Homo sapiens: one gene and its partners. The protein of the gene in region 6 interacts with the protein of the main gene of each other region in a biochemical or structural test. Each region holds a gene or a part of one and is shown on either strand. Other genes may lie near its edges.

The links.
Region 1: the proteins of DLG4 (region 6) and MYOZ3 interact in a test that uses a peptide from one of them, tested with the Homo sapiens proteins (one large-scale study listed by IntAct).
Region 2: the proteins of DLG4 (region 6) and GJA1 interact in a test that uses a peptide from one of them, tested with the Homo sapiens proteins (one large-scale study listed by IntAct).
Region 3: the proteins of DLG4 (region 6) and KIRREL2 interact in a test that uses a peptide from one of them, tested with the Homo sapiens proteins (one large-scale study listed by IntAct).
Region 4: the proteins of DLG4 (region 6) and CAPN6 interact in a test that uses a peptide from one of them, tested with the Homo sapiens proteins (one large-scale study listed by IntAct).
Region 5: the proteins of DLG4 (region 6) and KIDINS220 interact in a test that uses a peptide from one of them, tested with the Homo sapiens proteins (one large-scale study listed by IntAct).
Region 7: the proteins of DLG4 (region 6) and PALLD interact in a test that uses a peptide from one of them, tested with the Homo sapiens proteins (one large-scale study listed by IntAct).

The regions. Positions count from the first base shown.
Region 1 is NC_000005.10:150,660,076-150,664,050, reverse strand, and holds the start of MYOZ3 (myozenin-3), read right to left. Parts: upstream 2,801-3,975; 5' UTR 2,624-2,800; intron 1,111-2,623; 5' UTR 1,110-1,110; coding exon 1,049-1,109; intron 1-1,048. UniProt on the Homo sapiens protein: Myozenins may serve as intracellular binding proteins involved in linking Z line proteins such as alpha-actinin, gamma-filamin, TCAP/telethonin, LDB3/ZASP and localizing calcineurin signaling to the sarcomere.
Region 2 is NC_000006.12:121,447,937-121,450,227, forward strand, and holds the end of GJA1 (gap junction alpha-1 protein), read left to right. Parts: coding exon 1-60; 3' UTR 61-1,791; downstream 1,792-2,291. UniProt on the Homo sapiens protein: Gap junction protein that acts as a regulator of bladder capacity. A gap junction consists of a cluster of closely packed pairs of transmembrane channels, the connexons, through which materials of low MW diffuse from one cell to a neighboring cell.
Region 3 is NC_000019.10:35,863,014-35,867,243, forward strand, and holds the end of KIRREL2 (kin of IRRE-like protein 2 isoform c precursor), read left to right. Parts: coding exon 1-23; intron 24-1,634; coding exon 1,635-1,700; intron 1,701-3,143; coding exon 3,144-3,479; coding exon of another isoform or gene 3,480-3,523; 3' UTR 3,524-4,123; downstream 4,124-4,230. UniProt on the Homo sapiens protein: May regulate basal insulin secretion.
Region 4 is NC_000023.11:111,267,324-111,272,226, reverse strand, and holds the start of CAPN6 (calpain-6), read left to right. Parts: upstream 1-1,743; 5' UTR 1,744-1,856; intron 1,857-4,903. UniProt on the Homo sapiens protein: Microtubule-stabilizing protein that may be involved in the regulation of microtubule dynamics and cytoskeletal organization. May act as a regulator of RAC1 activity through interaction with ARHGEF2 to control lamellipodial formation and cell mobility.
Region 5 is NC_000002.12:8,732,741-8,736,970, reverse strand, and holds part of KIDINS220 (kinase D-interacting substrate of 220 kDa), read left to right. Parts: coding exon 1-103; intron 104-2,217; coding exon 2,218-2,316; intron 2,317-3,290; coding exon 3,291-3,527; intron 3,528-4,230. UniProt on the Homo sapiens protein: Promotes a prolonged MAP-kinase signaling by neurotrophins through activation of a Rap1-dependent mechanism. Provides a docking site for the CRKL-C3G complex, resulting in Rap1-dependent sustained ERK activation.
Region 6 is NC_000017.11:7,200,623-7,204,852, reverse strand, and holds part of DLG4 (disks large homolog 4), read left to right. Parts: intron 1-600; coding exon 601-654; intron 655-785; coding exon 786-845; intron 846-1,036; coding exon 1,037-1,161; intron 1,162-1,259; coding exon 1,260-1,429; intron 1,430-1,523; coding exon 1,524-1,660; intron 1,661-1,805; coding exon 1,806-1,950; intron 1,951-4,230. UniProt on the Homo sapiens protein: Postsynaptic scaffolding protein that plays a critical role in synaptogenesis and synaptic plasticity by providing a platform for the postsynaptic clustering of crucial synaptic proteins.
Region 7 is NC_000004.12:168,895,140-168,899,369, forward strand, and holds part of PALLD (palladin), read left to right. Parts: intron 1-453; exon of another isoform or gene 454-613; intron 614-1,409; coding exon 1,410-1,460; intron 1,461-3,353; coding exon 3,354-3,575; intron 3,576-4,230. UniProt on the Homo sapiens protein: Cytoskeletal protein required for organization of normal actin cytoskeleton. Roles in establishing cell morphology, motility, cell adhesion and cell-extracellular matrix interactions in a variety of cell types.

The DNA of each region.
Region 1 (3,975 bases), on a different chromosome or scaffold from region 6:
CTTGAGAACTCTGACTTAGTTGAATTAATTTTTTTCTTTTTCTTTTTTTTTTTTTTTAGAGACAGAGTCTCCCTCTGTCACCCAGGCTGGAGTGCAGTGGCACAACCGTAGCTCACTATAGCCTCCAACTCCTAGGCTCAAACGATCCTCTTGCCTCAGCCTCCTGAGTAGCTGGGACCACAGGCATGTGCCACCATGCCTGGCTAATTTTTTTTTTTTGTAGAGATGGAGTCTCACCATGTTGCCCCGGCTGGTCTCAAACTCCTGGGCTCAAGCAATTCTTCCACCTCAGCCTCCCAAAGTGCTGGGATTAAAGGCATCAGCCTCTGTGTCCAGCCCCTAAATTAATTTTTAAAATACCTGAAATCCTCTAAAGTAGACCAAATAAACAGATTCCAAAATTGTATCAAGAGTTCCTCAAGAGGTCTTCTAAAATTGATAAAAATGAATTTAAACTTTTTTAATGAAATGATAAAAATGATTTACTCATTTGATGAATCAGCTTTAAGTAGAAAGTTTTGTATTCAAATGGGCAGCCTGCTCTTCCCACCCTGCTCCACTCTCTCGACTCCCCTGTCTTCCCACCCTACTCCACTCTCTCCACTCCCCTCTCTTAGCCATGGGGCCCAGCCATCCTGGGCCACCCAGAGGCCTCGGTGAGACCCACAGGAGTAATAGGCAAAGGCAAGTGTGTGCAGAGCTTGCAGCCACAGGTAGGGCTGGAGTTGGGACCAGAGTCTTCAGAGCTTAATTTGGGGCTGAGGTGAGGCCTTAGATGAAGCCAGGGCCAGGGTCATTTTAGAGCCAAGGCCCAGCCTGGGACACTCAGCCTCAGCTCCTGGGTCTGTGGACAGATGGGCAAGACCCCTCCCAGTGCCTCAGGGAAGCTTCCCAGCCTAGGCAGCAAATTCTACAGGCACTCCCTCAGAGCTGGCCTGGAGCTCACACCTGTCTGCCCAGGCCTGGGGCCAGCAGGCCAGAGTGAGTGCAGCCTGGGAGCAAGGAAATGATGGAGTCTGAGGAAGGCATGAGGCTAGAACCACCTTACCTGGTTCAGTGAGGTCCCCCATGGCAGCCATCACTGGCCCCTTCTGCTCCTTGGGGATCATCCTGTGGAGGAGAGACCCCCATAAATGGACCAGGCTGCCTCCATTTCTCCCCAGACCTCCTTCCAGTCTCTGGTTCACCCTGCCCCAGTCCTGAACAGCTTTAGGCCAGCCCCAAATCACAAGCAAGGGATGTCTGAGCTGGAAGGGACTTCAGGGTCTCCGTGCAGAGGAGACTGAGGCCCAGGGAACGAGAGGGAGGTGCTCAAGTTTGCACGAATCTATTTTCATGTTGCTAGGGAAGCACTGTCTCTTCAGGGGTGGTTTCTAGGGCCTTTTCCCAGCTCTGGCATCCTGATCAGAGGGAGAGTAGGTGCCAGGGGCATCCGGGTGGGGCAGGCAAAGGTCTCAGGCACTACTGTCATCGGTTGACCCAGGAGAGTCCTAGTCCAAGGCTGAAAGAAGTTGGAGGTTTAAGTTAGGGGAAGGGGGAGGATGGACTAGGTTGGGGTTACACTGGGGTCTGCAAGGCTGGTGAGCCCCTTTCATCCTTGGCACTTGGCCCTGACGCTTGAGGGCACAGGCTGGTCCAACCAAGCAGAGAGAACCATCCCCCGTCCTCCCCATCTCCCCGCTACTGGGCTAACTTCCGTGGTGTTCTCTTCTCCCTCGTCCCTTCTCTTCCTCCTGTTCCATCCCCCTATTTGTATCTCATGGCACTTTCAAAGAATCTTGGAAGAGATTTGCAAATAAAATGAGGTCCAGAGCCCTTAACTTGCCCAGGTACCTTAACTTGCCCTCTGGAGAAGAGGCAGAGCCCTTGAGCTCCTCGACTGACCACCCACCTGGGTACCCTTCTCCTTTGCCTCCAGGTTTTCCTATACTCCTTCCTTTAGAAAACAATCTGCCTTCATCTGTATCCCCAACACCGACAAGGGGCCCTGGGAGTCAGTGGGCACTGCATTGTGCAACTGGAGTCTAGTGGGTGTCCCTGGCTTTCTCTGTAACTGCGAACAAGTAGCTTTCCAGCTCTGCACCTCAGTTCCCCCATCTGTAACAGTAGGGGGTTAGGCTAAATCACAGAGATCCATGGATGGGCTTTAGGGTGTTCACAAACCCCCTAAAACTATACGTAAACATGAGTGTGTCTACATGCATTTGGGGTGAGGGTCATGGGATGATTGAGAATGCCTCGATCACAACCGTTTAGGATTCCACAGTCCACAGATCTGTTTCTTGATAAACACTCCCTTTACAGAAATTCACAGATGCTGGGAAGGGTCTCTCATTTTACAGAGAAGCTGCTTCCCTCTACTGCCTAAAAATCCCAAAGTCCTGAGCAGAGCCATTACCTATTCCCCACCTTTAATCCTAGCCACACCCTCCCCATTTAATGCAGGGTAACCTAGAGCTTAGAGTTCCTCTCCTCCCAAACCAGGATCGAGGCTTGCATGGGGCCCCAAACTCCCTAGATCCACTGCAGGGCCCTTCCTCTCCGGGGGAAGGAGCTCTGGGGATTGGCTCACCTCCTCTGCCCACTCCCCTGAGTTCCCCAAGCTCCCCTAGGATGCTGGTACCTGAGAGGATGGGACCACAATAGGCAGGAGGGAATCTTAGACCCTCAAGATTAACACCTCTGTCGGGAAGCTGAGAGTTGCGTGGCGTCCCTGTAGGCAGTCAGCGGTCAGCAGTCAGTAGGCAGCGAGCAGGGTGTCCCCTGCAGCCAGCTCTGGCTTCAGCTGATGAGAATCATTCCTGCCTTGCCATGGGTCACAGCCTTATTTCGGGCTGCAATAGGAGCTGGAGCCAGAGGCTAAAAGCACCAGACCCTAGGGAAGACAGGTGCCCTGGCAACAGGCCTGTGCAGACAGAGGGCTTGCACCCACGTGTACACACACACTCACATATGCACACACCAAAGTCACCTGGAAATGTTGAGGGTCAGCTGCTGGTAGCTTCCGCTTGTTAACTGTTATATCCTTAGTGCCAAGAATGGTGCTTGATAGGAACTCAGCAGATATTTGTCGAAGGAAGGAATGGATGGATAGATAGATGGATGAATGAATTGCTCCTCAATATCTTTGCTTGACTTATCCTTTTCTTCCTTCCTTTCTTCTCTCCTGCCTTTCTTCTTCTGCCTCCTTCCTGCCTGCCTTCTTTTCTCCCCTCCTCCCTCCCTCCCTCCCTCCCTCTACCTTCTCACATTCCCTGAGCCTCTCTCTAAGGACTGAAAATAAATAAGGCAGGGCTCTGTCTTCAAGGAGCTCAGCCAGGTCAGATTCAGACGGGTAAACAAGCTTTGGGGAAGGCTCTGGGAGAGCCCAGGGGAGGGAGTTACCAGCTCAGCCTGGGGTGGGGGGTGAGAAGGCTTCCCAGAGGAGGACACACTGGAGTTGGGCCTTGAAGGATGAGTGGGAGTTCACTGGGCAGAGAAGGGGCATGGCAGGCAGTGGACATGTCACCTACAAAGATGGGTAGGGGGTTGGCAAGTAGAGCCGGAGCTGGGGGCAGTGCTGAGAGATTAGCCCAGACAGTGGGGGCAGCGGCCAGATCCCAGCAGGCTTTCAAAAGGAAACTGTGTTTATAAAGGGTTGCTGACAAGATTAAAGTGGTGAAATGGAGTGATCGGATTGGCATTTTCCAAAGATATCTTTGCTGCCATGTGGGAAATGGGTTGGAGGGGGCCAGACTGGAGGCAGGAGGACCTGACTGTCACCAGGGGTGGCTGGATCAGGGCAGTGACAAGGAGATGGAGAGGAGAGGGAGTTGAGGGTTATTTGAAGAACCCTTGGGTCTTGGTGAGGAACTGGATGTGGAAGGTGAGGAAAGGGAGTCCCACTCCCCTGTTTCATGCTTGGGTGACTGGAAGGGGAGGAGCAGGAGGGGTGGGGGCAGACACTGAGGTCAGTTTTGGATGAACTTTGAGGTG
Region 2 (2,291 bases), on a different chromosome or scaffold from region 6:
TCAAGCAGAGCCAGCAGTCGTGCCAGCAGCAGACCTCGGCCTGATGACCTGGAGATCTAGATACAGGCTTGAAAGCATCAAGATTCCACTCAATTGTGGAGAAGAAAAAAGGTGCTGTAGAAAGTGCACCAGGTGTTAATTTTGATCCGGTGGAGGTGGTACTCAACAGCCTTATTCATGAGGCTTAGAAAACACAAAGACATTAGAATACCTAGGTTCACTGGGGGTGTATGGGGTAGATGGGTGGAGAGGGAGGGGATAAGAGAGGTGCATGTTGGTATTTAAAGTAGTGGATTCAAAGAACTTAGATTATAAATAAGAGTTCCATTAGGTGATACATAGATAAGGGCTTTTTCTCCCCGCAAACACCCCTAAGAATGGTTCTGTGTATGTGAATGAGCGGGTGGTAATTGTGGCTAAATATTTTTGTTTTACCAAGAAACTGAAATAATTCTGGCCAGGAATAAATACTTCCTGAACATCTTAGGTCTTTTCAACAAGAAAAAGACAGAGGATTGTCCTTAAGTCCCTGCTAAAACATTCCATTGTTAAAATTTGCACTTTGAAGGTAAGCTTTCTAGGCCTGACCCTCCAGGTGTCAATGGACTTGTGCTACTATATTTTTTTATTCTTGGTATCAGTTTAAAATTCAGACAAGGCCCACAGAATAAGATTTTCCATGCATTTGCAAATACGTATATTCTTTTTCCATCCACTTGCACAATATCATTACCATCACTTTTTCATCATTCCTCAGCTACTACTCACATTCATTTAATGGTTTCTGTAAACATTTTTAAGACAGTTGGGATGTCACTTAACATTTTTTTTTTGAGCTAAAGTCAGGGAATCAAGCCATGCTTAATATTTAACAATCACTTATATGTGTGTCGAAGAGTTTGTTTTGTTTGTCATGTATTGGTACAAGCAGATACAGTATAAACTCACAAACACAGATTTGAAAATAATGCACATATGGTGTTCAAATTTGAACCTTTCTCATGGATTTTTGTGGTGTGGGCCAATATGGTGTTTACATTATATAATTCCTGCTGTGGCAAGTAAAGCACACTTTTTTTTTCTCCTAAAATGTTTTTCCCTGTGTATCCTATTATGGATACTGGTTTTGTTAATTATGATTCTTTATTTTCTCTCCTTTTTTTAGGATATAGCAGTAATGCTATTACTGAAATGAATTTCCTTTTTCTGAAATGTAATCATTGATGCTTGAATGATAGAATTTTAGTACTGTAAACAGGCTTTAGTCATTAATGTGAGAGACTTAGAAAAAATGCTTAGAGTGGACTATTAAATGTGCCTAAATGAATTTTGCAGTAACTGGTATTCTTGGGTTTTCCTACTTAATACACAGTAATTCAGAACTTGTATTCTATTATGAGTTTAGCAGTCTTTTGGAGTGACCAGCAACTTTGATGTTTGCACTAAGATTTTATTTGGAATGCAAGAGAGGTTGAAAGAGGATTCAGTAGTACACATACAACTAATTTATTTGAACTATATGTTGAAGACATCTACCAGTTTCTCCAAATGCCTTTTTTAAAACTCATCACAGAAGATTGGTGAAAATGCTGAGTATGACACTTTTCTTCTTGCATGCATGTCAGCTACATAAACAGTTTTGTACAATGAAAATTACTAATTTGTTTGACATTCCATGTTAAACTACGGTCATGTTCAGCTTCATTGCATGTAATGTAGACCTAGTCCATCAGATCATGTGTTCTGGAGAGTGTTCTTTATTCAATAAAGTTTTAATTTAGTATAAACATAGCTTCTATATTCCGTGTGATTTGTTTCCCCTGCCGAGATGGAGTCTTGCTCTGTCACCCAGGCTGGAGTGCAGTGGCGCGATCTCGTCTCACTGCAACCCTTGCCTCCCGGGTTCAAGCAATTCTCCTGCCTCACCCTCCCGAATAGCTGGGATTACAGGCACCGCCACCGCACCTGGCTAATTTTTGTATTTTTAGTAGAGATGGGGTTTCACCATGTTGGCCAGGCTGGTCTGGAACTCCTGACCTCGTGATCCGCCCACCTCAGCCTCCCAAAGTGTTGGGATTACAGGGGTGAGCCACCGCACCTGGCCTATATTTAAAACTCATTGACGGCATCTATTTGAGATTATTTAAACACATTTCTATTGGTTATCAGAACTTCAGCAAATAACAGTCATGTTTTCAGGGACAATATTTATCATTAGCTCTGTTCAGTGCAACATAAATTGTAAACATTTTTGGATATTTATTGAACCAAAAGGAAGATAAAGTGTTGAA
Region 3 (4,230 bases), on a different chromosome or scaffold from region 6:
AGACAGGCAGCCGCGAGGACCGGGTAGGATGCCAGGGTCCCCAGACCTGACTGTGCCTCCAGACCTAAATAATAGCCCAGTCCCAAGAGGGTCCCCAAATTCAAATAGGACTCTAAGGCCAGGCATGGTGCCTGACGTTGGTAATACCACTTTGGGAGGTGGAGACACAAGGATCACTTAAGGCCAGGAATTCAAAGCCAGCCTGGACAGCATAGCAGGACCCCATCTCTACAAAAATACAAACTAAAATAAAATAAAAAATGAACCGGGTATGGTGGCATACACCTATAGTCCCAGCTACTCAGGACACTGAGGTGGGAGGATCCCTTGAGCACAGGAGGTAAAGGCTGCAGTGAGCTATGATTGCACCATGCACTCCAGCCTGGGCTACAGAGCAAGACCCTGTCTCCATTTTTTTTTTTTTTTTTTATGTAGGAGGGCTCTAGTCTTTTTTTTTTTGGCAGAATTTCACTCTGTCACCCAGGCTGGAGTACAGTGCTGCGATCTCGGCTCACTGCAACCTCTGCCTCCCTGGTTCAAGTGATTCTCTTGCCTCAGCCTCCTGAGTAGCTGCGATTACAGGCGCCCACCACCACGCCTGACTGATTTTGTATTTTTAGTAGAGATTGGGTTTCACCATGTTGGCCAGGCTGGTCTCAAACTCCTGACCTCAGGTGATCCACCCGCCTCGACCTCCCAAAGTGCTAGGATTACAGGCATGAGCCTCCACGCCCGGCCTGAGGGCTCAAGTCTTTTTTTTTCTTTCTTTCTTTTTTTTGAGACGGAGTCTTGGTCTGTAGCCCAGGCTGGAGTGCAGTGGCGCGAACTCGACTCACTGCAAGCTCCACCTCCCGGGTTCACACCATTCTCCTGCCTCAGCCTCCAGAGTAGCTGGGACTACAGGCACCCGCCACCATGTCCAGCTAATTTTTTTGTATTTTTAGTAGAGACGAGGTGTATACCGTGTTAGCCAGGATGGTCTGGATCTCCTGACCTCGTGATCCGCTCGTCTCGGCCTCCCAAAGTGCTGGGATTACAGGCGTGAGCCACCGCGCCCGGCCAAGGGCTCTAGTCTTAACAGTGACCCCACACCCAAATGTCACCCAAGTCCATGCCCCTGACCCAATTATTCCCTAGGCCCAGTATGTCCCCACAGCCCGTTTTTGTTGTTGTTGTTGTTGTTGTTGTTGTTTTTGAGATAGAGTCTTGCTCTGTCGTCCAAGCTGGAATGCAGTGGTGCAATCCAGACTCACTGCACCCTCCACCTCCCAGTTCAAGTGATTCTCGTTCCTTAGCCTCCTGAGTAGCTGAAATTACAGGTGCCTGCCACCATGCCTGCCTATTTTTTGCATTTTTAGTAGAGACAGAGTTTCGGCATGTTAGCCAGGCTGGTCTCAAACTTCTGGCCTCAAGTGATACTCCTGCTGCGGCCTCCCAAAGTGCTGGGATTACATGCATGAGCCACTGTGCTGGCTTCTTACAGCCCTTTTATTGTCCTGAGTGCAGTCCCCAGCTCTTGGGTGCTCTTACTCCCTCCTGCCTGGCCTCCACTGGCTGGCTGAAGGTCCTTGGGGTCTGGCATTGGGGCGGGGGGATCCTCTGACTATTCCCTCTCACTAAGTTCCCTACCCCAGGGCCCCATTGTGCACACTGACCACAGTGATCTGGTTCTGGAGGAGGAAGGGACTCTGGAGACCAAGGTGAGTGTTGAGAGGGGTGGGGCTCCCTTCACTGTTGGGAGAGGCGGGGCTCCCTTCATTGTGTTTCCGTCTCTCTCCCACGCCTGTCCCCTCCTTTTTCCTTCTGTTGTCCTCAGAGTTGGGACTCAGCTCCCCACCCCACTCCTCCTGCCCCCTGGGCCATCTCACTCAGCTCCCAGCCTCAGTTTGCCTGTCTGCAGACTCTTCCCACACATCTGTCCCAGCCCTAGCCTCCATCTGGAGCCCCAGACCAGGGCTCACCCTGCCTGTGCTCTCCTCATCACGGTCAAGCCCCCTTTCAGCCACCAGGTCCTACACTGGCCCCACATCTCCCCAGACTGGTTCTTCCTCTGGGGTCCTACCTCAGGACAGCCACATTGACTCCAGGCCATCCCCAGGCCAGAGCACTTCTCTCTCTCTCTCTCTCCTGCGTACCTAGCACATGCCATTCTCTCTCTTCTTTTTTTTTTTTTTTTTTTTGAGACGGAGTCTCATTCTGTTGCCCAGGCTGGAGTGCAGTGGTGCAATCTCAGCTCACTGCAACCTCTGCCTCCTGGGTTCAAGCCATTCTCCTGCCTCAGGCTCCCTAATAGCTGGCTAATTTTTCTTGTATTTTTAGTAGAGATGGAGTTTCACCATGTTGGCCAGGCTGATCTGGAACTCCTGACCTCAAGTGATCCGCTCGCCCCAGCCTCCCAAAGTGCTGGGATTACAGGCGTGAGCCACTGTGCCCAGCCGACATGCCATTCTCTTGGCCTGAAACACTCCTACCTTCCTTCCCATGTCTACCTAATTCCTTCCTTTAGTCCTCCAGTCTCAGCTCAGACATTTCTTGTTCTAGGAAGCCCATGCTTCCGTCATGACAGCTCGATCATTTTGCCTGTGTTCCACCCATCACAGCCATGACCACTCTGATCTGGGCTTCCTTATCCCACCCACTATGCTGAGGGCTCTACCATCACAGCCCCTGTCATTGCCTATGCCTTTCCCAGGCACAGCCCTGACCCCTCTGGGTACTGTCTCATGATCTGTCATTTTTCCTTTGGTGTGGGATTCTGTGAGGACAGGGTCCAGTTCTATCCTAGTGACATGCCTTGTAGCAGCAACACAGGGTGTGACACTGAATCAAAGCCTAGAGGCTGTTGGGCAGGTGAGTGTCTCTCTCCTGTTCCCTCTGCACCTTCCACACCGACACCCCTCAGCAGGCCTATATCCCTCCGTCTCTACCTTTCTCTGCCTATGTCCTATCCATTTGCCTCTTATCACTGTTCCTCTGTCTCACTTTCTCTCTCTCCCAGTCCATGTGTGTCTCTGTGTCTCTGCCCACTCCTGTCTCTTTTTGTCTCTCTCAAGGTCTGGTCTATTTCAGTGTGTCTCTCCATCAGTGACCCTCATCCCCCCTGCACGCTCACAGACTTTACTGAGTCCCATTTGTCCCCTCAGGACCCAACCAACGGTTACTACAAGGTCCGAGGAGTCAGTGTGAGCCTGAGCCTTGGCGAAGCCCCTGGAGGAGGTCTCTTCCTGCCACCACCCTCCCCCCTTGGGCCCCCAGGGACCCCTACCTTCTATGACTTCAACCCACACCTGGGCATGGTCCCCCCCTGCAGACTTTACAGAGCCAGGGCAGGCTATCTCACCACACCCCACCCTCGAGCTTTCACCAGCTACATCAAACCCACATCCTTTGGGCCCCCAGATCTGGCCCCCGGGACTCCCCCCTTCCCATATGCTGCCTTCCCCACACCTAGCCACCCGCGTCTCCAGACTCACGTGTGACATCTTTCCAATGGAAGAGTCCTGGGATCTCCAACTTGCCATAATGGATTGTTCTGATTTCTGAGGAGCCAGGACAAGTTGGCGACCTTACTCCTCCAAAACTGAACACAAGGGGAGGGAAAGATCATTACATTTGTCAGGAGCATTTGTATACAGTCAGCTCAGCCAAAGGAGATGCCCCAAGTGGGAGCAACATGGCCACCCAATATGCCCACCTATTCCCCGGTGTAAAAGAGATTCAAGATGGCAGGTAGGCCCTTTGAGGAGAGATGGGGACAGGGCAGTGGGTGTTGGGAGTTTGGGGCCGGGATGGAAGTTGTTTCTAGCCACTGAAAGAAGATATTTCAAGATGACCATCTGCATTGAGAGGAAAGGTAGCATAGGATAGATGAAGATGAAGAGCATACCAGGCCCCACCCTGGCTCTCCCTGAGGGGAACTTTGCTCGGCCAATGGAAATGCAGCCAAGATGGCCATATACTCCCTAGGAACCCAAGATGGCCACCATCTTGATTTTACTTTCCTTAAAGACTCAGAAAGACTTGGACCCAAGGAGTGGGGATACAGTGAGAATTACCACTGTTGGGGCAAAATATTGGGATAAAAATATTTATGTTTAATAATAAAAAAAAGTCAAAGAGGCAAGTGTGTCTTAGGGAGTCTACTGGCATTATCACTCTCCACCAAGGAAGGGGTCCCTTAGACCTGTCCCAAGGTCCCTCCTCTACCCTAGCCTATGAGGTGGCTGTAGG
Region 4 (4,903 bases), on a different chromosome or scaffold from region 6:
GATTAAGCTACGGGCTGCACACTGAGTAGATTTATGCTCAAAAGACAACTAGAGTGGCAAAAAGTCTGTAAACCATGTCCTATGAGGCATGGTTTGAAAGAACTGAGGATATTTAGCCCAGAGGATGAATGACTTGGCGTGACATGCTAGATATTTTAAAGGGCTGTCATGTGAAAGAGGAATTAGAAATTGTTTGTGTGAAGCTATTTTTTCCTCAACCTAAGGAAGACCCTTTTAACAATTAGGAAATGATCAAATATGGAATAAGCTGTTTTGCATAGGGATGAGTTTCTCAGACTGTCAGAAGGATATTTCTGCACTGAGCAAGAGGATAAACATGGCTTCTAAGGTTCCTTCCAATTCCCAGGTTCTGTGATTCCCTGCTAGATTTACAAGTATGAAGGTGGAAAAGATGGCTAAAGAATATGAGCCCAGACAAAACATCCTCCGTTGATTTTAAAACCAAAATTCCATACCAGGGATATTTGCTTGAGGACTATCTCACTGTCTAGCTGAATGGTTGCCAATATTTAGAGGCCTAATTGCCCTGGACCCCTGTTTCCTTGTGCCCTACCTCTAGCTGAATTTCCATCTTGGCATAGAAGGTACAGAGGGAGTTGTAGGGAAATGCCAAGAAGGAGATCTCAGAGACCAGAGTTATAGAAATGCTCAGAACTGTTTTATGAAAACATTGGTATGGGCCCAGTGAGTGGAGAGAGAACATGCTTCCTGTCCTTGTTGAGCTCTATGTTGCTCACTTGTTATCCCCAACCCCCCTTATCTCTTACATCTTCAACTAGCCAGCAGGAGGGTTGGTGCAGGAGGAGGGGTAGAAGGAAGTAATTTCAGGTTCAAGGGTTAACAGTACACTGGTCAGGAAAGCTGAGGAATGAGATGATGAGCATCTTTACAGTTTGTGAAAATGAAACAAACAAAACAACTTGAGAATCATGTTCCTGGAATTGTGTCCAAATGAATGTCTCAGGTTGAAGGGACCAGGACTTTGACTGTGATGCAGTATAGTATTTATAGGGATCTTGCTTGGCCTTTCAGAGCAAAAACAATTATTTTCTCTCCTCTCACCTAACACAGCTGTGCAGAATCTTCATAGCCTGGTTGCTAGAAATTAGGGTTCTTATAGCTGCTGTGGAATAAACTCCATTCACTTTCCTCTTAACAATCCCTTCTCTCTGTCTTTGACCAAATGTTACCTGTTGTTTCACGAAGTGACCTTTTCTTCATTGCACCCCATTAGCTGCTCTTTCACTCCCAGTCACTTCCTGAAGTCCTCATCACTATCACAGATCTGCCTACCAGGGCCATGTCTGACCAGGGCCATGTCTGCAGCCTAGCCCATATTAACTTTGCCAACACTTCACCATTTTTCTCTGCATGTCCTCTCTCTAGTAATGTGCATGTCTGTGATATTAACCCTGGGACAGAAAAGTAAGAAATCTATCAGAATCCTCGCTGAAAGTCTTATTTCTCCTTGAAACCGAAAGAGCTTTCAAACGTGGCTTCCTGAGTTTTTCAGTTTGCTGGTGGGTGGGTCTGGAGTGGGCATCCCGTCTGCACATCTGGTAGAGGCACTTTCCACATTTTCCTCATGACTCAGGATCAGTTTCTGACTGCTGGGCGGGGCAAAGCCTCCTGAAGTTGCTGCGAGGCACCTCCCCCTGTGAGCAGAGCTTGGTACAGCCCAAATAGTTTTCAGGTTAAGAAAGCCAGAATCTTTGTTCAGCCACACTGACTGAACAGACTTTTAGTGGGGTTACCTGGCTAACAGCAGCAGCGGCAACGGCAGCAGCAGCAGCAGCAGCAGCAGCAGCAGCAGCAGGGCTCCTGGGATAACTCAGGTGAGTAGAGAGGGAATTCGCAAACTTACCCTGGAGTTTTATTTCCTGGATAACTTAGCGTCTAAGAAAGATGAAGAAACTTCAACTTTGTAGTTAACCAAACTCCACAGCTATATTTTATGGCTTGTCTGGATCAAATATGTGCCCGTTAATAGCAGTTTGAGAACTTCAAAAATAATGGAATTTTTGGTTGGTTATTTTGAGGGGTGTGTGGGGTGATGATTGTGGTTGTCTGGCAATGAAACTTTTCTGGGGATATCTGGTCAGTTTTTTGTGTGTGTGCACACACGCGTGCATGTGTATGTGTTTGCCTTCTGCTACCCAAAATACCTGGTAAGTGAGGAAAAATCACAGGGGATGGTGTTGAGGGGGAGAAGCGTGGCTCCTTTCAGGGCCTCCTTCTAGCTTCTGCTGACCCACAGCTGTGGGAAAATTATTGAAATGCGAGCAAAATCTTGGAGCCACACTGTGTGCAAAAGGCCTGTGAACTCTGGTAGGAGGGTGAGCAGGCTGTGCAGTGTTGTACAGGAGGAAGTGGTGGCCAAGTCTATCTTAACTCCCTGTCTGCACAGCCAGTGGTCTTCCTGCCCTGGTGACAGGTTGATCTTGGCTATTCCATTTTCAGCCTCTGGCCTGGCTTTGTTCCCCTCTGATTCCAGCTTTGGTTTAAACTTTGATTTCAAGATGGGGCTCCATCCTCCACTCCCAGGCCAAGTACACTGTTCTAGGGTCTTCACTGGACCACTTGATCAGAACTGGCTTTGGGTGGGGGACGGGAAAAAGGAGCGGTGCATTGTAATGGAAACAATTGGTTCTGAGGATTTGGAACTGTAAGTTTGCTGAAAAGCACATAGGAAAACTCAGCAAATTCTGCTGTCCTAACAATTACTTCTGGCTTCAGGATAAAACATCCTGGTTTGTATTATTGGTGTATTGAAATTCAGCTAATGCCTCATTTGCTAATCTTTATTGTGAAAGTAAGAACACTTTACAGTCTGAAGTAATAAACAAAAAAATTATTTGTGGACTGCTAATTAACTCTTTTATTCCTCTGGAAGTTTGTGTGTGTGTGTGAGCATGCTTATGTGCACGTGTGTGCCTGGGTGTGTGTGAATACTTTGTATTCAAATAGCGTTCTTTATTTGTCCTTAGACTCCCTAGCAGTCTAGGGAAAAAGTCTAAACACTTACATGGTCAGGAATAGGTTAAAAAGCAGGCTTTCCATATCCTTGGGAGTTTTCAGTTCCTAAATTAAAAGCAGAAAAAGTCCCTTTGTGACCCCAAAACAGTGTTTCTTTGATTAGCCTTGATTTGAAATCATCTCACCTTCTGACAGCTTGCAATTCAAAAACAAAACTTCTAAGTGCATTCTTGTGAGAAGAGTACAATATGAATTTTTAAAAGCAACGTCTTGCTTGACATATTGTGTCTGCATGTTTGCCCTCCTCCCCACCTTACAACAAATTGTGGTTTAAAAAAAAACGTTGGGAGGTCCCAGTTTTAGTGTGGGCTCTGTCACTAACTACATAACCCTGGGCAAGTGCCTTTACCTTACAACAAAAGAAAGAAGTTGTACTAAGTGATTTCTAACAGACTTTCCAACATAACATTCTATAAAATCAGAATTTGATTCTTGAAAGGCTGGAAAAGTAGACATATAGGATGGGCTTATTCGGCCAAAAGGGCAAGTCAGCCAAAAAAGGAGGGGTGAAATAGGGAGGTGTAGAGAATGGTGGAGGGGCAATTTTTATATTAGTCTTTTAAATGTTGGTGCATGTCTTATTTAAAGCACATGATCAAATTTCATTAGTTTCCCCTAAAGACAGAAAAGAAATTTAACTTGTTAAAATAAGTGCTTCCTAATACTACTGCCCTGCTTTAGCCTTATCTTTAACAATAAAGAGTATGTTCACATACATAATTTCATTACATTCTCCCAATAACACTCTGAAGTAGACAGGGAAGCTAACATATTCCCATTGTGCTATGTGGAAACTGAGGGACTGAGATGTTATGTATACTAAATGGTGATATTTTGGATTTGTTTCTGGATCTTGTAACCACCTGTGTTCCTTTTATCATTTTGAATTGCTTTTTATTTTTTGATAGAGTTATTGAGCAACCGAATTAAAATTGTGTCCTCTTTTTTTTCCTTTGAATGGCTTTGAACAGACTCTTCTCTCTGGGCCAGTAGGTACATCCTATATAAGGCAGTGGGCTGGATCAGAGGATCTCTGTGGTCCTTTTTAGACCCAGAATATCTGGTTAGAAGTTTGAATCTGAACAGCCATACATAAGTCCTGTGGTTAAATGCGTGCCCATGTATGTAAGCTATGACTCTGCCTGTGTACCTATGAAAAGCACTATTCTCTGTATACCATGTGGATGCTGAATTTGTATTACTTTTTCCTATCCAAGTCCCTTTTCTCTCACCATACCACCCCCCAGGTGTGGGGATAAGGGATGTGGATTGTGGGTAAAAGTGGTGCCTACTTCATGCCAGGGCAGAATTGGGTCTTCTGTATTCAATTTGTCTGCAAACTTTTATTGATTTTATCTTGATTTTTGCTCCAAGTACAGAACAGGGATGAAACTGAGGAAAAGGAGAAACTAGGCAGGAACAATGCCTCAGCCATGCCCTCTCTCCCTCTCCCCATTAAGTTCCCTCATGTTCTCTCCCACTCACCTAAATCCAAAGTGGCTTGTGAACCACAGACAGGATGTATTTTATCAGATTTTTTTAGAGCAAAATATGCTTTTTGCTCTAAGGCTAACCCGCAGGTTAAGAAGCAAGAGATTTTGCTTTCACGACTTGCCTAGCTTCCTCAAGCTTTCCAGTCCAGTGAGTAGAAAAAAAATACCTCTCTCTTTAAACTGCAGCCTTGTATTCTACGTGGCAGTCTCCCTCAACTTCCCTGGCAATTCTCAACTTTCTGCACTCTGGGCCCGCTCCTATCCTTTGCCTTGGCAGACACGGTTGTCCTCATATTCTTTCTCAAAGTGGTGGATCTGAATTATAATAATATTGCCTAAGACCATTACCTCAA
Region 5 (4,230 bases), on a different chromosome or scaffold from region 6:
ATTACTGAATTCACTGAATGTGGATGCAGTATGTGAGAAGCTGAAACAAATAGAAGGGCTGGACCAGAGTATGCTGCCTCAGTATTGTACCACGATCAAAAAGGTGAGGCAGCCACTTACACACGGACCAGAGACAGCGCTGGGGGCGGAAGACAGGACTGTGTGGGTCGTGTAAACTTTATGTATAGCTTCCCAAACATGCATTCCCTGTTAAAATGGGAAAGCTCTAAATGGAAAACATAATTCTTACTAGTTTGTATTCTAAAATTGCCCTGTTTTCTCTTATTTTATAAATGGATAAAATAAAATAAAGTAGCTGTCTTACCATGTTCTTTTTTAAATGACGTAATACAAGTAAAGAATGCCTTGATGAGAAAGAGAAAGCTCTGAGGGATTCCCATTGGGATAAACAGAACTCATCTTTCCAGTGTGGAACCGAAAACCTTTGTGTTACATTTTTTTCTAATTGTAATATTTGTTAGTGTGATTTAGTGATTATCAAAGTAAGCCACACTTGCCTCATTTTCTCCAAATTCTCATTTTCATGTCATGTAGGACTTAGGATCATGTCACATTTGATGAAACCACATAGGTTTGGGTTTGCAAGGTTAATGCATTTGCATAGTTTTTTTTTCTTCTAAGATCCTATTGCAATTCTAGCAGCTATCAGGAAGTTGGCTAGAGATGCCTGAGATTTGGGGGAAGGTTTTAACGAAGTCTTTATAGTAGGTATTTCACTAAGGTATACTTTTTATATCAGAGTACTGTGTAATAAAGTAGAACGTTAATAACCAGCCTCTAATATTTATATACTTGAAAGAATGACATCTGAGAGAAGTTTTTTAAAGAATTATGAGCATATGTAGACACCATTTTACTCATCTCAGCCAATTTTAGAAAGGTTTCAGATAATGTCAGTTTCCTTACAGAGCTGGCTCGTGCTAGTCCCTGTTTGCATGAGTCAAACACCGGCTTTTCCATGGATAAGCCCCACTTTCTCCTTCAGGCAGCTGGTTGGTGTCAGGAAAGAGCGGGGTCTCCCACACGAGTCCTTTGTGATGATTTTGTTCCCATCGGGGTAGTGGTTTTCTCCCCACTCAGCTCTTTGCTCCTAGACCCCGGCTTTCTGAAGCCCCTCAGAGCCGCTGGCCTCCTCCGTGCTTAGGGCTCCGCGGCATTGTTGCAGCAGGACCTCTGTCACAGACTTGCTGTGTATACTGTTTTCTTCAGGATTAACTTGGAAACTGAACATTCTATTGATTATAAACATAGCTATTTCATAAATTTGCCCCAGTTAATAAAGTCAGGTTTTACATTTTATAAAAGCAGTAAGCTACCTATTATTAATAAAGAAAATGCTGTTGTTTCATTTAGGGGAAACTAGAATTACAGGGAACCAAAAGTAATAACTTCCTTTTTTATGATTTTTTTTTTCTTTGAGATGGAGTCCTGCTATGTCACCCAGGCTGGAGTGCAGTGGCGTGGCCATGGCTCACTGCAACCTCCCGCCTCCTGGGTGCAAGCGATCCTCCTGCCTCAGCCTCCCAAGTAGCTGGGACTACAGGCATGTGCCACCACTCCCAGCTAATTTTTGTAGTTTTAATAGAGATGGAATTTCACCATGTTGGCCAGGCTGGTCTCGAACTCCTGACTTTAGGTGATCCACCCACCTCAGCCTCCCAAAGTTCTGGGATTACATGCGTGAGCCACCGCGCCGGGCCTTGTGAATTTAATAGACTGGAAAATTAGTGGGTGGGCATTCTTCATATCTGTATCTAATATAACGGATAAACAAGTTTGCCAGGCCTACTTCATTTAGAACGTTGTTAGTGACCAACACGCTTATGAGAACAGATGTCTTTGTCCCCTCCCAGCAGCTTGTGTTCATGTTCATATTTTCTAAGATTAGAAAACAAAAACTAACAGTTTTGTTGTTGCTCATGACAGCATAGGTAGTTTTGGAAATAGGAGGGTTAGTTCTTCGGTTGGTCCCAGAAAATGCCTAAGACATTTGGGAAAATATGAAGTGGCTGATGTTGTTCAAATTCAGCTTGTTTATTGTATTATTATATGGGATGATAACCTTTTTTTTGGTCAGCCTTTCTGGTCTCTAGAGACTTATTTAAAACTAAATATAAGCATACTTGGCAATCACTAGTAATTCAGAATATTTCACATTCTGTCTTTATACCCATAATTGTTTTAATTTTTACTCAGGCAAACATAAATGGCCGTGTGTTAGCTCAGTGTAACATTGATGAGCTGAAGAAAGAGATGAATATGAATTTTGGAGACTGGCACCTTTTCAGAAGCACAGTAAGATATTTGTAACATTGTGATGTTTACAACATTATTTTATGATAACATTCAAAATTATTTATAACATTGTAGAAAACCAGTATCAATAAGTACTGGCCTAAACTGGTATTTTTTTCATATTTTTTTAAATTTAAAAACTGCTTCTTACACTTATGTGCAATCCTGTGTTGTGGAAAATACACACAGCAGCACTTGGCAGCCTTTGCCTTTTTGGGCATTTCACTCAGAGATTTGGGGAAGAGGCCGCCTGCCGGTTCTTCATGCTTTCACCTGCCTTAACTCTCATCAGGCTCCTCAAAGCCTTCGAGGCCTTGACCTTCAGCATTCATCCTTATAGGGCTTGCATTGCCCAGGTTTAGCAAGAATCCTGTTAAGTCAGTTTACATGTGTGATCACCCTCAGTATTTGATCAAACGCCTCACTAACCCCCCCACCCCCAGGTGATGTCGGCTCACCCTGGCCATCGGCGTACCAAGAGTCCCCCACTCCTGCTGCCTCCCCTTAGTAATGTTCCATCCACGACCCCCACCCTGCCCCTTGGTGGTAGATCCCCACTCATTCGTGCTTATTCCGAGTTGGACTCCCTTCTGTAGTGAGACTGCTTACCCCTGTTGCCATAGTTCTGAATAAAATCTGGACCTACCGCCCTACTCCTGGCCAGCTCTGGTTTTGACACAAGCCAGCTGCATTTTTCTTTGTCCTCAAGTTAAGTTTTAAACAGAAGTAATAATTTAATGGACAAATTGCAGTGTAGTATATGTATGGTGGTTTCTACCATTGCTTCCTTTAGTATTAATGAACATGAAAGATAAGCTGATGTATAAAACAAATTCACTAGAAATTCACTTACCAGAAGTATGCTTTCTCATTGCTGTTGCAATAGCTTTATAATGTTTGGTATTTCTAAATATTTCTAAAGCTTCTAAAATATGATTTGTTAGTGTAAATATTTATGTTTTTCTTCTGTTAAGGTACTAGAAATGAGAAACGCAGAAAGCCACGTGGTCCCTGAAGACCCACGTTTCCTCAGTGAGAGCAGCAGTGGCCCAGCCCCGCACGGTGAGCCTGCTCGCCGCGCTTCCCACAACGAGCTGCCTCACACCGAGCTCTCCAGCCAGACGCCCTACACACTCAACTTCAGCTTCGAAGAGCTGAACACGCTTGGCCTGGATGAAGGTGCCCCTCGTCACAGTAATCTAAGTTGGCAGGTATTTATTGAATGGCATTTTTCATATTATTGAAGAATAAGCACACCGTTCAGTTCACTGAGATTATATGGGCATTTAGACAGTCATTCAGAAAATGCTTACTGAATACCTAAGTGAACAGGAGACAAGATGGAGGGCTCCCTGTACTCAAGGAGCTGCATCCATGTGGAGAGGGGCAGTCAGTGAAACAAACAAAAAAGTAGCTCATGTAGACATTGATGAGAGCTGAGATATCCATCAGGGTCACAGCATGCAGAGTCAATAGGGATTAGGCCACTTGAGCTAGGGTGGTCAGCAAATTCAGCCTTTCTCAGGCGATCTTCCTGTTGCATTCAGTAACTGTTGGTTGAAGTACATCTTCATTGGAACACTGGCCACATAGTGTCCCTTTGAGCACCATCCTTTGGTTTTCCAGGACGCCTGCACACCCTTCACGGATATTGGTTTCTTCTGGTCTGGCATTAGATGTAGGCGCGTTCTTCCTTTGGAGATTCTTAGAAGAAGGAGGCCAGGTGAGGGGTAGGGGTAGGGGCAGGGACAGAGCAAAGTGAGAGATGCAGGAGGAGTAGCGGGAGTGAGGAGAGCGCAGGAGGAAAAGCAGAGCAGGGTGTGGAGAACAACGGGGGAGGAGGCACAGCGGGCGGCAGCGAGTAACACTGAGTGGGCAGGGCAGGGCAGCGGTGAGGAGGAGCAGCGCCTTGGG
Region 6 (4,230 bases):
ACCGAGGGAGGGGCCTGCAGCTGGGGAACCCCGGATTCCCGGGGTGCAGGGTTTAGGGCAAATGTCTGTGAAAGTGAGGGGCAAGTCTAGGGGAGGGTTATGAAAATATCTGGGTAGATATGGGGGGTTGGGGGGATGGGGCAGGAAATGGGGACCAGGACCCGGTGGACATGATCCCTGGGGTGTCCATGTGTAGCACATAAGGCATGTAACACCCTGTGGTGTTACATCCGGTGAGAAGCTCCCTTCCCCCAAGCCTACCCCCCTCTCCCCACTCTTTGCCATCTGCTGCTCCCCTCTCCGTCTGGCTGTCTCCCTTCCCGCTTCTCCTACACCTCCTTCCACATGCAGGGGGCCCCGGGCTGGGCAGAGTTAGATCCTTGCGCGTGTGCATCTGTGCGTGTGTGTGCGCGTGCGCATGTGCACGCGTGTGCGTGTGTGTGATGTGGATTGAGGCTGGGCCCTTGAGCAGCTCTCAGGGTGGCGGAGTGGGCTTGGCTAAGAGGCTGAAAGGGTAGCCACGCTGATGGGACCCTCCGTTATGGGCTCCCTCTCGAGTCAAGGCTCAGGCTGCTTTTTGTCTCTTGTTTTCCCAAACAGGCCAATTCTCCCCCAGTGATTGTCAACACAGATACCCTAGAAGCCCCAGGATATGTGAGTTGTTTAGATTTTGGGGCTGGGGCCATTGCAGAAGGAAGGAGGGAGTAAGGGAGGGCAGCAGATGACGGGCAGGTGGTCAGACAGGAATGTCTGTCTCACTGCTTTTGTGTTTCTGTCCCGTGCTGGAGTTGCAGGTGAACGGGACCGAGGGGGAGATGGAATACGAGGAAATCACATTGGAAAGGGTGAGCAGGCTCCTCCATCGGCAGTCCCCGTGGCCTCCCGTCTGTACCTTTCTTTCTGCCATGTGGTCTGGGTGGCTAGCCCCTCACCCTGTGCCTTCCTCCTCTGGCTGCTCCAAGCCATTTCCCACCCCACTTGCCTTGCCAGACTTGGGCAGTGAGGGGAGCTGACCCTCTTCCCCTCCTTCACCCAGGGTAACTCAGGTCTGGGCTTCAGCATCGCAGGTGGCACTGACAACCCACACATCGGTGACGACCCATCCATTTTCATCACCAAGATCATTCCTGGTGGGGCTGCGGCCCAGGATGGCCGCCTCAGGTGGGGAGAGGAGACAGGGGTTAGGTTGCTTGGTCCCTGGAGAGGGAGGGCCAGGGCAGCAGGAAGCTCTTGGCTCAGGCCCACCTTGCTGCTCCCAGGGTCAACGACAGCATCCTGTTTGTAAATGAAGTGGACGTGCGCGAGGTGACCCACTCAGCGGCGGTGGAAGCCCTCAAAGAGGCAGGCTCCATCGTTCGCCTCTATGTCATGCGCCGGAAGCCCCCGGCTGAGAAGGTCATGGAGATCAAGCTCATCAAGGGGCCTAAAGGTAGTAACTCATTTTGTTCCCACCCCCATCCCAACTGTCCTGTGCCCCCAAGCCTGCTTCCTGGGCACCCACCTCTGGCCTCCCCTCCATCCAGGTCTTGGCTTCAGCATCGCAGGGGGCGTAGGGAACCAGCACATCCCAGGAGATAATAGCATCTATGTAACAAAGATCATCGAAGGGGGTGCTGCCCACAAGGATGGGAGGTTGCAGATTGGAGACAAGATCCTGGCGGTGAGGACTCCATCTAGCCCATTTTCTAGCCCAGATTTGGGTCTCACCTACTAGCCCTGGCAGGCCCAAGTTCATCACTTCACCCCAGTGCTTCTGTCTTGGGCCATTTGTGGCTTTGTCTGAGCTTTGCTTTCCTTGACTCCAGGTCAACAGTGTGGGGCTAGAGGACGTCATGCATGAAGATGCTGTGGCAGCCCTGAAGAACACGTATGATGTTGTCTACCTAAAGGTGGCCAAGCCCAGCAATGCCTACCTGAGTGACAGCTATGCTCCCCCAGACATCACAACCTGTGAGAGCCCTTCAAACACCAAAGTTCCCCATGACCCATCCCGTTTAACCCATGACATGCAGTCCCACGACATCCCTGTAGCTGTCCCTCTTCAGATATTCCCTATGAAATAGCCACAACCTCTGATCCTTGCTGTTGTTGGAGAAGAGATGGAAAATCAATTACCATAAAAGAACTAGAAAAGATCGTCAACGATCTCTCTCCTGGAAGGCACAAAGCCTGGTTGGTTTTATGGCTAATTTTGTGAAATTCTCAAGGAATAGATAATTCTTCTGCTCTTCCAGAGTACAGGAAAAGATAAAAGATTTCACATTTCATTTTATAAGGCCAGTTCGAATGGTCACAAGGATAGTGTAAAATAAGGAGAGTATAGACCCGTTTTGCTTCTGAATAGAGATACAAGAGTTTACAATAATATAGTAGCAAAGCAAACATGGCAGCATGTTAAGGGAATAACATAGGGTTTGTTTCAGAAAACTAAAGATGGCTCAATATTAGGAAATCTCTTAATATGATTCATATATTAAAACGTTACGGGAGGCTAAGTGTGGTGGCTCATGCTTGTAATCCCAGCACTTGGGAGGCCAAAGTGGGAGGATTTGAGACCAGCTAGGGATTTGAGACCAGCCTAGGCAACAAAGCGAGATCCTGTCTCTAAAAAAATTAAAAAAATTAGCACGTGCCTATACTCCTTGCTACTTGGGAGGCTGAGGCTGGAGGATCGCTTGAGCCGAGGAGTTGGAAGCTGCAGTAAGCCAATGATTGCGCCACTGCCCACCAGACTGGGTGACAGAGCGAGAGGAGAAAACGATGTGATTATCTTAAATAGACGTGAAAAAGGCATTTGGTGAAATTCACCATCTCTTTTGGATGAAAGCTTTTAGTAAACTAGGAACACAGAAATTTTCCTTAAGATGGTGAAGACTAGTTATCAGGAACCAGTAACAAACATTTTATAATGATACAATTTTAGCAGTGTGTCCATTAACTTATTTTTTAATTTAATTTTAATTTTTTTCTTGAAATGGAGTTTCGCTCTTCTTGCCCAGGCTGGAGTGCAGTGGTGTGATCTCAGCTGACTGCAACCTCTGCCTCCCAGGTTCAAGTGATTCTGCTGCCCCGGCCTCCCGAGTAGCTGGGATTACAGGTGCCCACCATCACGCCTGGCTAATTTTTGTAGTTTTAGTGGAGACAGGGTTTCACCATGTTGGCCAGGCTGGTCTCGAATGCCTGACCTCAGGTGATCTGCCCTCCTCGGCCTCCCAAAGTGCTGAGATTACAGGCGTGAGCCACCGCGCCCGGCCTCCGTTAACTTACAAAGAGGGCAGGGATGCCTCTTCCCACTGCTATTATTCTTCATTGCTTTAGAGCAGGGTTTCTCAGTGTTACTCCTGACATTTTTGGACCCAATAACTCTTCATTGTGGGGGGTTGTTCTGTGCCTTGTGGGATATTAAGCAGCATCCCTGGCCTCTGTCTATCAGATGACAATGGTACTCCTCCCCCTCAGTCATAACAATTAAAAAATGTTATGACAGAATTGCCCCAGCGAAATTATGGTGGTTGAGAATCACTGCTTTAGAGATTTCAGACAGTGTAACAAGACAAGGAGAATAGTTACATTTGGAAGGGAAAAACAAAAGTTATCTCTATTTGTAAATTATACTACTGTGCATCTAGATCAAAATCTAAGTGAATTAACTGGAAAAATATGCAAAGTTAAGAATGTGGCTATTTGTTGGCTGGGCGAGGTGGCTCATGCCTGTAATCCCAACACTTTGGGAGGCCAAGGCGGGCGGATCACCTGAGGTCAGGAGTTTGAGAACAGCCTGGCCAACATGGAGAAACGCTGTCTCTACTAAAAATACAAAAAAAAATTAGCTGGGTGTGGTGGCGAGCGCCTGTAATACCAGCTAATCCTGAGGCTGAGACAGGAGAATTCCTTGACCCTGGGAGGCGGAGCTTGCAGTGAGCCAAGATCTCACCACTGCACTCCAGCCTGGGCGATAGAGCGAGACTCCATCTCAAAAAAAAAAAAAAAAAAAAACCAAAACAGGCTGGGCGCGCCGGTGGCTCATGCCTGTAATCCCAGCACTTTGGGAGGCCGAGATGGGTGAGTCACCTGAGGTTGGGAGTTCGAGACCAGCCTAACCAACATGGAGAAACCCCATCTCTACTAAAAATACAAAATTAGCCGGGCATGGTGGTGCATGCCTGCAATCCCAGCTACTCAGGAGGCTGAGGCAGGAGAATTGCTTGAACCTGGGAGGCGGAGGTTGCG
Region 7 (4,230 bases), on a different chromosome or scaffold from region 6:
TTGGGAGGCTGAGGTGGGTGGATCACGAGGTCAGGAGATCGAGACCATCGTGGCCAACATGGTGAAACCCCGTCTCTACTAAAAATACAAAAATTAGCCAGGTGTGGTGACGCACACCTGTAGTCCCAGCTACTCGGGAAGCTGAGGCAGGAGAATTGCTTGAACCCGGGAGGTGGAGGTTGCAGTGAGCTGAGGTTGTACCACTGCACTCCAGCCTGGCAGCAGAGTGAGACTTCGTCTCCAAAACAAAACAAAACTAAAAACACATATACGACTTTTGACTCTTCAAAAACTTAACTAACAGCCTACTGTTGACCAGAAGCCTTACTGATAACAAAGAGTTGATTAACACGTATTCTGTATGTTATATGTATTATAGACTGTAGTCTTAAAGTAAGCTAGAGAAAAGAAAATGTTACAAAGAACATCTTAAGGAATAGAAGATACATTTACAATTCATTAAGTGGAAGTGGGTCATCATAAAGGTCTTCATCCTCATTGTCTTAAATTAGAGTGGTCTGAAGAGAAGAAGACAAGGGGTTGGTCTTGCTTATCTCAGGGGTTGCAGAAGCGGAAGAAAATCCATATATAAGTGGACCCATGCAGTTCAAACCTGTGTTGTTCAAAGATCAACTGTTTAGTCTTAATATCTAGTCAAAATAAAATAGAAAATATTATCTCTTTATCTTCTTTCACATATATACAGATGTTCTTCAACTTAGTATGGGGTTATGTCCTGATAAACTCATTATAAGTTGAAAATATTGTAAGTTGAAAGTGCATTTAAGGCGGGGCGCAGTGGCTTACGCCTGTGATCCCAGCACTTTGGGAGGCCAAGACCGGGTGGATTACCTGAGGTCAGGAGTTCAAGACCAGCCTGACCAACATGGTGAAACCCCGTCTCTACTGAAAATACAAAAATTAGCCGGGTGTGGTGGCGTGCGCCTGTAGTCCCAGCTACGCGGGAGGCTGAGACATGAGAATCGCTTGAACCCAGGAGACAGAGGTTACAGTGAGCCAAGATCGTGCCACTGCACTCCAGCCAGGTGACAGAGCGAGACTCCATCTCAAAAAAAAAAAAAAAAGTGCATTTAATACACCTAACCTACTGAACATCTTAGGTTAGCCTAGTCTATCTTAAATGTGCTCACAACACTTACATTAGCTTACAGTTGGGCAAAATCATCTAACACAAAGCCTATTTAAAATAAAGTATTGAATATCTCATGTGATTTATGGAGTCCTGTACCAAAAGTGAGAAGCAGAATGGTTGTGTGAGTACTCACAGCACCGTTACTACCAAACGCATATTGCTAGCACAAAAGTTTCACTTAAGGAAAATTAGAAATCTTGCTGCATTCTTATTATTTCTATTATTAGTCTTCACATCTTTTTTTCTACCATTACAGGACATTGGTTCTCCTCATGCTTCTGTAGGGAGTCCTCTGGATGGTCAAAAGGTTAAGCTTTTCACCTTTCTTCTCCTTCCAGTCTTTCTCTGTGTCTGTTTTCTTCTGTTCTTCCTGTTTTACGTGTGTTTCTATCTTTTCTGCCATATATTAATTATAAATGCTATGACCAGTGTCTGTTTCATTTAATATCAGATACACAAAATTACTGCAACATGAGTTTTCTTGTCATGTATTTACCAGCTTGAATTTATTTATTTATTTTTACTTTATGTATTTATTTATTTATTTATTTATTTTGAGATGGAGTTTCGCTCTTGTTGCCCAGGCTGGAGTGCAATGGTGTGATCTTGGCTCACTGCAACCTCTGTCTCCTGGGTTCAAGCGATTCTCCTGCCTCAGCCTCCCAAGTAGCTGGGATTACAAGTGCATGCCAACATGCCTGGCTAATTTTGTATTTTTAGCAGAGATGGGGTTTCACCATGTTGGTCAGGCTGGTCTCGAACTTCTGACCTCAGGTGATCCACCCGCCTTGGCTTCCCAAAGCGCTGGGAATACGGCATGAGCCACAGTGCCTGGCCTCTGACTTGAATTTAATTCTGTCATTAGTGGATACTCTGAACATTAAATCAAGAAAAATTTTTCATTTGTTATATATACCTTTCTATGGGGAACAAAAGTGCTAATTCTTCAAGGGATTAATTTGATAGTAATTAGATGAAGCAAAACAACTTGTGGTATAACTCTTGCAGTTTTATTCATACTGTTGTATTTCTTCCCTCAAACCAACAAACTTGTTTTTTAAACACTGAGTAACTTCTTTAAGAGAAAACATAGTTAAAGTTATCTTTCATTTAATATTAAATAGGGAATATTTACATAGACTCCCTTGTCTTCATTGCACTTTTTTGTTTTGGAGACAGGGTCTCACTCTTTTGCCCAGGCTTGAGTGCAGTGGCACAATCACGGCCCACTGCAGCCTCGACTTCCCAGGCTCAAGTGATCCTCCCACCTCAGCCTCCCAAGTAGCTGGGACAACAGGCATGTACCACCATGCCCAGCTACTGTTCTTTTTAAATTTTTTGTAGAGATGGGGTCTCACTTTGTTGCCCAAGCTGGTCTCAAACTCCTGGCCAGAAGCAATCCTCCCACCTCGGCCTTCCAAAGTGTTGGGAATTACAGGCATGAGCCACTGTACCTGGCCTTTAATGCACTTTGTAGGCAAGGAAATTGTAGGATCCACCGTAATCACCACAGGAATGTTGATGGGTTGTTTTTTTTTTTTAAAGCAAAATTTTGGCTAGACTGTCAGTCCTATTTTTTCTTCTAAAGATGGTGGGTTCCTAACAGCTGCAGAGCTGAGGAGGCGGCCCTTGCAAGGCAGGGATTGTTAGAGGTGGGGGAAAAAAAACAAACATTTTTTTTTTTCTATTATTCTTTTACTATTTTTTCTATTACCATTTTTTCTAGTACCATTTTTTCTATTATTCTTTTACTATAATTGTATATAATATGGCAGCTGCTTGCCACATGTACTATGTGGAGAGATGTACCACCCTGCATCAGCTTTTACCCTACAGAAGGAAATCAGCGTTCCATTATATTTTATTGTTATCAACAGTTTAGGAATACATAGCTTTGCTTTTGCCTTTTTCTTTCCTTCCCCTTGTTTCCCCTCGCCTCAGAGAAAAGAAGGAAAAAAAAATTCATCTTTCCTACCCCCCTCTTTTTGGATGATAGGACTTGAAGACAATCTGAAATACCACATAAACTCACTTCCAGATGTTTTTTGTTTCATATGCAATTGAATTGGGCTCAGACTGTGTTTTTAAGCTGTATGGTAAAAATATCACTGTCTTCTAGGGCCTTATTGGGGGGCAGGGAGAGACGTGACACTTTGTCAGAAGGGATTGAGTCTGCTAACTTAAACTTTCCTTGATTCAGGAATACAAAGTCTCCAGCTGTGAACAGAGACTCATCAGTGAAATAGAGTACAGGCTAGAAAGGTCTCCTGTGGATGAATCAGGTGATGAAGTTCAGTATGGAGATGTGCCTGTGGAAAATGGAATGGCACCATTCTTTGAGATGAAGCTGAAACATTACAAGATCTTTGAGGGAATGCCAGTAACTTTCACATGTAGAGTGGCTGGAAATCCAAAGCCAAAGGTGAGCTGGGAGATGGAGGCTTTTTAAGAGTCATTCTCTGAGGAAAGGTTTAGCTTCCAAAACATAGCATGCCAGTAGGAGAAAGAGATACAAATGATCTTTCTCAATACCCACGATATAAAGGGTTTTAAATATTCTTAAGTTCTGGGCCATCTTCAGGAGGCATTAGAAACCAAAAAAGGTGGTGGGGGGAGTGGAGTTTGGGTTTGAAGAATAGAGAATAACTAACAGGGAGCTCTTCACACACCTATATCATTTATTCCTCGTTGTTATTCCCAAATCACAAATAACTAAACTGAGTTCTGTGAAGTGAGTTTCCAAGGTCAGAGAGCTGGTGAGTGGCCAGGCCTGCATATGAACCCAGTGCTCTGTACCATACAGACAAGTAATGCTCACCACTGGTTGTAAAAACTTCCAATCTTTAATCAAAAAACCAAGGCTGCTTATATTAATATTTACAGAGGGAGGTGGGGTGAAGAATATTGTTTAGAACGGATAATGACAAATTCTGATACCATGCAGGACTAGGATGACCTGGATGGGAGCTCTCTCCATACAAACATATGGAAATGCTGGATAAGGAGCTGCCCTATCTTTAAAGGAAGGACTAGAATAACTGTTTACTAGCCCAGCAAGGCAGTAAACAGGAGTACAC